Homo sapiens: one gene and its partner. The protein of the gene in region 2 interacts with the protein of the main gene of each other region in a pairwise test. Each region holds a gene or a part of one and is shown on either strand. Other genes may lie near its edges.

Region 1 (4,170 bases), on a different chromosome or scaffold from region 2:
CTTACCGGGGCTCACTCTTGGCCTCCTCATGCATCTCTCTACCTCTCCTGAAGCCTCCAATCCCACCACCGCCCCTTCCCACCCATTCACGAGTCCAGCTAGGGTCACCTTGCTTGCCTGCCTAAATAAGACCCAAACTCCTTTGTTGGGCACTAAGGTAGCGTTGCCAGGGTTCACAAATAAAAATACAGAATGCCCAGGTAAATTTGAATTTCAGATAAACAACTTTTTTTTTTTTAGGATAAGTATGTTCATGCAATATTTGCATTTCCAGTCTCAGTTATCAGTACCAAATATCATGCAGTATCTGGGAAGTAAGTATCCTATCCAGTTGGATTATCTGAAGTTCAAATGTTCGAGTTTAACTGGGCATCCTGTATTGTACCTGGCAACCCCACACTAAGCACTCCGTGTTCTGGCCCCAAGGTTAGACACCAGTGTTCTCCCCACAACTCCTCATATCATGACCCTCATATCAGTGCTCCTTGCACCCTGAATGCAGCAAACACTCCCTGGGCCCTGAGCCTAGGCTCAAGCTCTCCCCTTGGTCTGGGGATCTACTTCCCCTCCCCTCTACTCCACCTGTCCCCTCTCCTTGCTGGTCCAAATACCAGCTGAGGCTCAGCTCAAAGCCACCTCCTCCCAGAAGACGTCTATGATCAGCTCAGAGCTCAGCAGCTGAGATCTCTACCTTCTTAGAGCCCACCAGTCCCTTTCCGCCCTGCTCATGGCATTCACCACAGGCGGCCTTGGGCTGTCATTAAACGAACACTGGTCTCATTCTTGCCATCCTCTTCCCCTCTCAGTCCCCACAAGACTGCAGACTCCTTGAGGGACCTCACAATCTTCTTCTGCATCTCCCCTGCGGCATCACACCCAGTGCCAGAATAGAGGGAGTATGCCGAACATACTGGGTGGATGTCTGACTGGAGGAATGATCACATCTGATCTCCTCAAAGCAGAGTATGTCTCAGTCCCAGAGAGCAAACACATCCTCATCCTGGTCTGCTTCTAGATTCCCAGTGGGAATGTCAGATGGTTGGAGATCCCTGGAAGGTGGGCTGCCTAACTTGTCATCCATTGTTGGAGGATGCCTTGGAGACAAGATGTCTCTTCAGCATCGTAAAGCCAGTTGCACCGGCACCTGCTCTGCTCCAGGCAAGCAGGTAGAGCAATGCTCAGGCCCAGAGGGGAGGGACCCTAAGCTTTCCTCCAGTAATAGCCCTAAATGTGTCACCGCTGATACCACTCAGGAAAGGGAAAAGAGGAAGAACAGAGACCCAAGAAGTCCGGAGAGCTTGGGCGAGGGTAGTGGGGGCAGACAAGTGGGCAGGACCAGAGGCAGGGAGGGCCCAGTTACCTCTTATTTCAGGGAAGCAGTGCCTGCACCAAAACCACGCCACTGCTCGTTACTAACAGAAGGCCCCTGACGGGCTTTGGCCCACAGCTTCTCCAACCCACCAAGCATCCACACTTGTTACCGTGCAATAGTTTCAAAAGGGCTCATGATGGGAAAAAAATGTGGTGACACTTTTTACTAAAGGATTCTCAAAGCAAAATGCTCAAATAACCAAGTAAACTACTCAAGCAAGGCCCTTTTGAGGCCATCGCCCTATCCCATGGGCCCCATCGGACTGCACGGTGTGACTCAGTTTGGATTTGCTCAGTGCTTTCACAGATCCCAGCTGAAGCTCACACCCCTATGAGGCAGCCGTCATCATCCCTGGTTGACTGATGAGGAAATGAGGCTTAGAGAGGCAGTGACTTACCCAGTGATGCTCAGCTAATAAGGGGCACAGCTGGGATTCCACCAAATATTCTCACTTCCAAGCCAGGGCAATTCCAGGCCACCTCAACACCATCATTGAGGTCAATCGTCATCACTCTTGAGCAGAAGGAGGGGGCCCACAGTACTATTGGTGGGGAAGCGGGACCCAGAGCAAGTTGATAGTTCTGGGAGAAGCCAGTGGGGCAGGCAGAGAGGCTCCTGGTCTCCCAGTCAACTCCCATTCAAGCAACCTGGCAACCTGGCCCCCGACTTGTGCTAGCTGTTCTCTCCTGCCTCAGCTTCCTCCTCAAAGACCCAGAGTTTGTGGTGGATTAAACTAGAGAAGAGAATGCCCCGTGCCTGGGACACAGCCAGACACCCACGAACTGCACAATAAACATAGCCCCCTACCTCTTTCCTGATATGGAACTGAACTTCATAGGATTTGCTTTATATTTCTCCCTGTCCCAGGAACTCCCATGTTACAGAGGCTTTTTTACCTCAGTGACGATGGAAGAGCCGGGCGTGTCATACACCCAGCCATCCTGGCAGGGACCCAGCGGCAGGTGGCTCCTGTTGGTGGCCAGGCTAGCCAGGGGGTCTACACAGCTGAGGGCGCTCTGGTTCCAGTCCACTTCATAGCGCCTGCACTGGCCAAGGAAGGCCTCGCCCGCGGGCCCCAGGCCTGGCACTGTATAGTTCAGCTCCTCCGCAGGGCTCCAGCCACAGCGCTGGCTCAGCTCAGCCACCCCAGGACTCTGGCAGTGGTGGTCAGGTGTGAAACCCAGGAAGACGATGCCCACACAGATGGGCGCAAAGGCAGCCGACAGCAGGCATAAGATGAGGAAGGCTTGCTTCTGGAACCAGCCAGACTCCCCAACCTGCTCCAGAATGTCATCCACGGTGGGCATGATGGCTCAGCATGCTCATGGCCGTGGCCAGACCTGCTCTGGGCTGCAGTGGCCAGGTGCAATGTCTCCCTCAGAGATCTTTGAAAAGGAGTGGTTTGAAATCAGTTTGCTGTCCAAGTGTGAAACATCTGGAAGGCAACCAAGTAGAAATAATCTTTTACCCTATGGTGCTGGTTTCAGGAAAAGGAAGAATGCACGTGGCCATCTGATCAAATCGTTTGCTTTGCCCGGGAGCGAGTCAGTGGGGTCTAAGCCCGAAGAGAATTGAAGTTCAGCCACAGAGCAAGAAGAGGGCAGGAGAGCAGGCCGTGCAAACCTCCTAGTAGCTCCCTCAGGGCTCTTCCAAAAAGAATATCTACTTGTTTTCTAGATGTGATGGTATGAGGCAAGTATTGGGTGACAGCCAGGTACTAGATACTGTATTCGGCTAATTAGTTCTGTGATACCATTTAAGTATTTTTTTTAGTTTTTTTTTCCCATAGGTTTTGAGGGAACAGGTATTATTTGGTTACATGAGCAGGTTCTTTAGTGGTGATTTGTGAGATTTTGGTGCATCCATCTCCCAAGCAGTATACACTGCACCCAATTTGGGTGTTTTAAGCTCCACCTCTTCATTTGTGTGTGTGTATACATGTCTAGATGTGTTTACTTGTATGTACACTTACTGTTATATGTTGTGTCTACCAAATTGGCTTATAAGTAAAAGAGTGTTCATAAATTAAGTAAATAAGTCTAAGCAATTTTCAAATTCACTTAAGTATGACTTTGCTAAATAGGCTGTCTTTTAAATTATCAGTAAAATGAAAATAGAAATGTCTTCAAAATATAGACATGGTCTAAATTATGCAAGTCAGAAACTAGGTTGACTAAATGCTTTAAGGTCATAAACTGCTTTGGCTTTTGAAAATTGTTCAACTTTCCTGCTTTGCAGTTTGGTAGGGCCTGCCCTAGCTATGCTGGAAATAGTTAGACCTCATCTGCACCTAAGTACGTAACTAAAATAACTTACTGGGTATTTCACCAAAATTAACAATTACTAAGAGCTACCATTATAACATGTAGTGATGACTACTGAAAACAGATCTACACGTGAGGTGAGTAAGGAGAGTAAAATGTATCATTAGTAAAATAATATAAGAAGGCATGGGAATGTAAATTTTTGCCTAGTTCAGAGGGTTAAATGATTGTTTTAAATTATATAAGATAAAGCTTAAGGTTCAAACAAGTTATGGAAGGTTTGTAAAAAATTAATCTTGTAAAAGGAATCCTGTGTGTAAACATATTGACTACACTAAAAAGGATATTATTTGGTTTTCCATAAGTTGAACAATGGAATACAAGCACAACAAGGTTTTCTTGAAGCACTTACATGCTGTTTAACAAAAAAAATTTGTAAAAGGTTATAAAAGATTTATAACAATCTCAGTTCATGATCAAACTGATTAAGATTGGATGGATTTCTCTGTAAGGTTTTATTTTTTTTAATTGGGG
Region 2 (3,500 bases):
CCCCATCCTACATTTTTGGTTCTATCCTCTAACATTTCCTTTTATACCCCCTGACCCTGGCGTTCCAGCCACATTGAACTTGCTGTCTTGAGGAGATGTCCTTGTCTCAGTGGCATTGCTCATACTTGGAATTGTTCTTTTCCACACCTCTCAGGCTCCAAATCTTCATCTTTTGAGTTCCTGTTCAAATGCTCCCATCTCTGTTGCAGGTCCCTGCAACCCCTGACTGTAACTCTCCTTAACTTCCATGATTCTTTCTCGGAGCTCTTGTCACATTCATTGCTTTATGCTTTTTGTTTTTTGGGTACATGATGTATTTAACTTCATGTTCTGAGTCCTAGGGAGTTCTTCCTAAGCACTTAGCAAATATGTGTTGTAGGCAATTAGTAGCTATATATGATCAGTAGACTCCACGGGGGAATAATAAGCGGATTAAGAGTTGACAGGTCCCTAGGGACTGAGAGTGCGGGGAAAGCACAGGCGTAAAGCAGGTGTCTTAACACTGGCTTTAGAAGATCTAGAAAACTAGTAACCAAGAGCTTTTAACATGGTTCTTGTTAAGATGTGAAGAGGTAAGATAACTAATTTGAGTGGCTATTGTATGCCAGTCACCGGTCTAGGTATTTTATGTATATTCACTCATTTGAACTCTGGCCAGATGACATTCTTCCCTTCTGTAATATTACCCCTTGACCTCTTTTTTTTTTTTTTTTTTTTTTTTTTTGGAGATGGAGTTTTCGCTTTTGTTGCCCAGGCTAGAGTGCAACGATGCAATCTCGGCTCACGGTAACCTCCGCCTCCCGGGTTCAAGCAATTCTCCTGCCTCAGCTTCCGGAGTAGCTGGGATTACAGGCATGCACCACCATGCCCGGCTAATTTTGTATTTTTAGTGGAGACGGGGTTTCTTCATGTTGGTCAGGCTCATCTTAAACTCCTGACTTATGGTGATCTGCCCGCCTTGGCCTCCCAAAGTGCTAGGATTACAGGCATGAGCCACTGTGCCCAGCCCCGTTGACTTCTTGTTACACTTAGAATAAAATACAAAGTCAGGTGGTGGCTCGCGCATTTAATCCCAGGACTTCGGGAGGCCGGGGCAGGAGGATCACTTGAGCCTGAGAGTTCAAGACCAGTCTGGGCAACATAGTGACACACCCCATCTCTAATTAAAAAAAACAAAACAAGACTCCATAAGTAGCCCTACGGGACCCCAGACTCACACTGTACGACTTCCTCACCTTTCCATCTTCTCTGACCAGCTCCTTACCTCTGCTCCCTCCTCTAAAGCTTTTTGCCCATGAATCCCAAATTTATGTTTTTTCATTTCAGCTTTAAAACCCTACCCTGTTATGATAACAATAATGGAGTACATTGCCCTTGTGTGGTTCTTCATACTTTTTTTTTTTTTTTTGAGATGGAGTTTCGCTCTTGTTGCCCAGGCTGGAGTGCAATGGTGCCATCTCAGCTCACTGCCATCTCCGCCCCCCACTGGGTTCAAGCGATTCTCCTGCCTTGGCCTCCGGAGCAGCTGGGATTACAGGCACACACTAACATGTCCAGCTAATTTTTCTATTTTTAGCAGAGATGGGGTTTCACCACGTTGGCCAAACTGGTCTCAAACTCCTGACCTCAGGTGATCCATCTGCCTCGGCCTCCTAAAGTGCTAGGATTACAGGCCACCATGCCCAGCTCTTCATAATTTTTCAAAGCACATTCTTCTTATTTCGTTTGATCCTATTTCAGTCCACAATTTTCCACATACCTTTTCTCAAAAATAAGAGTATAGAAGAGTTGGGTGCAGTGGCTCACACCTGTAATCCCAGCACTTTGGGAGTCTGAGGCAGGCGGATCACTTGAGACCAGCCTGGCTAATATGGTGAAACGCTGTCTCTAATAAAAATACAAAAAATTAGCCAGGTGTGGTGGCAGGTGTCTGTAATCGCAGCTACAGGCTCCTACTGAGGCGGGAGAATCACTTGAACCTGGGTGGTGGAGGTTGCGGTGAGCCGAGCTTGCGCCACTGCACTCCAGCCTGGGCGACAGTGCGAAACTCCATCTCAAAAAAAAAAAAAAAAAAGTATAGAGGGATTGAAATGCCAAGAAAACTTGACAGTTTATCAAATAACATCTTTGCCATAAATCTTAATGCCAGTTGTGGGACTGGCCTGTGGCTCCTTTAAGCCTTGGAGTTGTAACAGAAAGTTTTCTTCAGATAGTTTTGTTAATCACACTGTTTAAAATGTGCTATGAAATTTCTTGGATCTTTGGAGAGAAACAAGATACTGTTATAATAATTACTGTGGAGATGTCACTGGAAAGGGGATCCAGACCCCAAGAGAGGGTTCTTGGACCTCGTGCAAGAAATAATTCAGATTGAGTCCATAGAGTAAAGTGAGTGTAAGTTTATTAAGTAAAGAAACAAAAGAATGGTTACTCCATAGGCAGAGCAGTAGCTTGGACTGCTCGACTGATAATACTATAATTATTTATTCATTATATGCTAAACAAGGGGTGGATTATTCATGAGTTTTCCAGGAAAGGGGTGGGCAATTCCCGGAAATGAGAGTTCCTCCCCATTTCAGGCCATATAGGGTAACTACCTGACGTTGCCATGGCATTTGTAAATTGTCATGGCGCTGGTGGGAGTGTCTTTTAGCATGCATGCTAATGTATTATAACTAGTGCATAATGAGAAATAAGGACAGCCAGAGCTCACTTTTGTCACCATCTTGGTTTTGATGGGTTTTGGCCGGCGTCTTTACCATCACCTGTTTTATCGGCATGGTCTTTGCGACCTGTACCTTGCACCGACCTCCTATCTCATCCTGTGACTTAGAAGGCCTAACCTCCTGGAAGTGCAGCCCAGTGGGTCTTAGCCACATTTTACCAAGCCCCTGTTCATAATGGAGTCGCTTTGGTTCAGATGCCTTTGACGGAGAAGGTAACTTTTCACTATATATTCTTTGTACAGTTCAGGTGTTTGGTTAAACACATGCTTGTAGTATCTGTTTAAATTAGTTATATGTATATGTATACTCTGGGAAGTGGCTCTTCTCATTATTACAATTTTTTTCGAAAAGCAATCAGCTTTTATTTGACAATTTGGAAAATACAGGAAGAAAAAAAGTTATTCCGGCCAGGCACGGTGCCTCACGCCTATAATCCTAGCACTTTGGGAGGCCGAGGCGGGTGGATCACGAGATCAGGAGTTCAAGACCAGCCTGACCAAGACGGTGAAACCCCATCTCTACTAAAAATACAAAAATTAGCCGGGTGTGGTGGCAGGCACTTGTAACCCCAGCTACTCGAGAGGCTGAGGCAGGAGAATCGCTTGAACCTGGCAGGTGGAGGTTGTAGTGAGCCGAGATCGTGCCACTACACTCCAGCCTGGGTGACAGAGTGAGACTCCGTCTCAAAAAAAAAAGAAAAAAAGTTACTTCGAATCCTACAATAATCCTGAAATAACCAATTGGGATTGTCATTTAAAAATGAACTTTTTTTTT

Evidence for each region. Proteins that work in one complex are often made in the same cells at the same time.
Region 1: the proteins of LAPTM4B (region 2) and SLC22A1 interact in a protein complementation assay, tested with the Homo sapiens proteins (one large-scale study listed by BioGRID).

The regions. Positions count from the first base shown.
Region 1 is NC_000006.12:160,120,445-160,124,614, reverse strand, and holds the start of SLC22A1 (solute carrier family 22 member 1), read right to left. Parts: upstream 2,801-4,170; 5' UTR 2,680-2,800; coding exon 2,269-2,679; intron 1-2,268. UniProt on the Homo sapiens protein: Electrogenic voltage-dependent transporter that mediates the transport of a variety of organic cations such as endogenous bioactive amines, cationic drugs and xenobiotics. Functions as a pH- and Na(+)-independent, bidirectional transporter.
Region 2 is NC_000008.11:97,799,788-97,803,287, forward strand, and holds part of LAPTM4B (lysosomal-associated transmembrane protein 4B), read left to right. Parts: intron 1-3,500. UniProt on the Homo sapiens protein: Required for optimal lysosomal function. Blocks EGF-stimulated EGFR intraluminal sorting and degradation.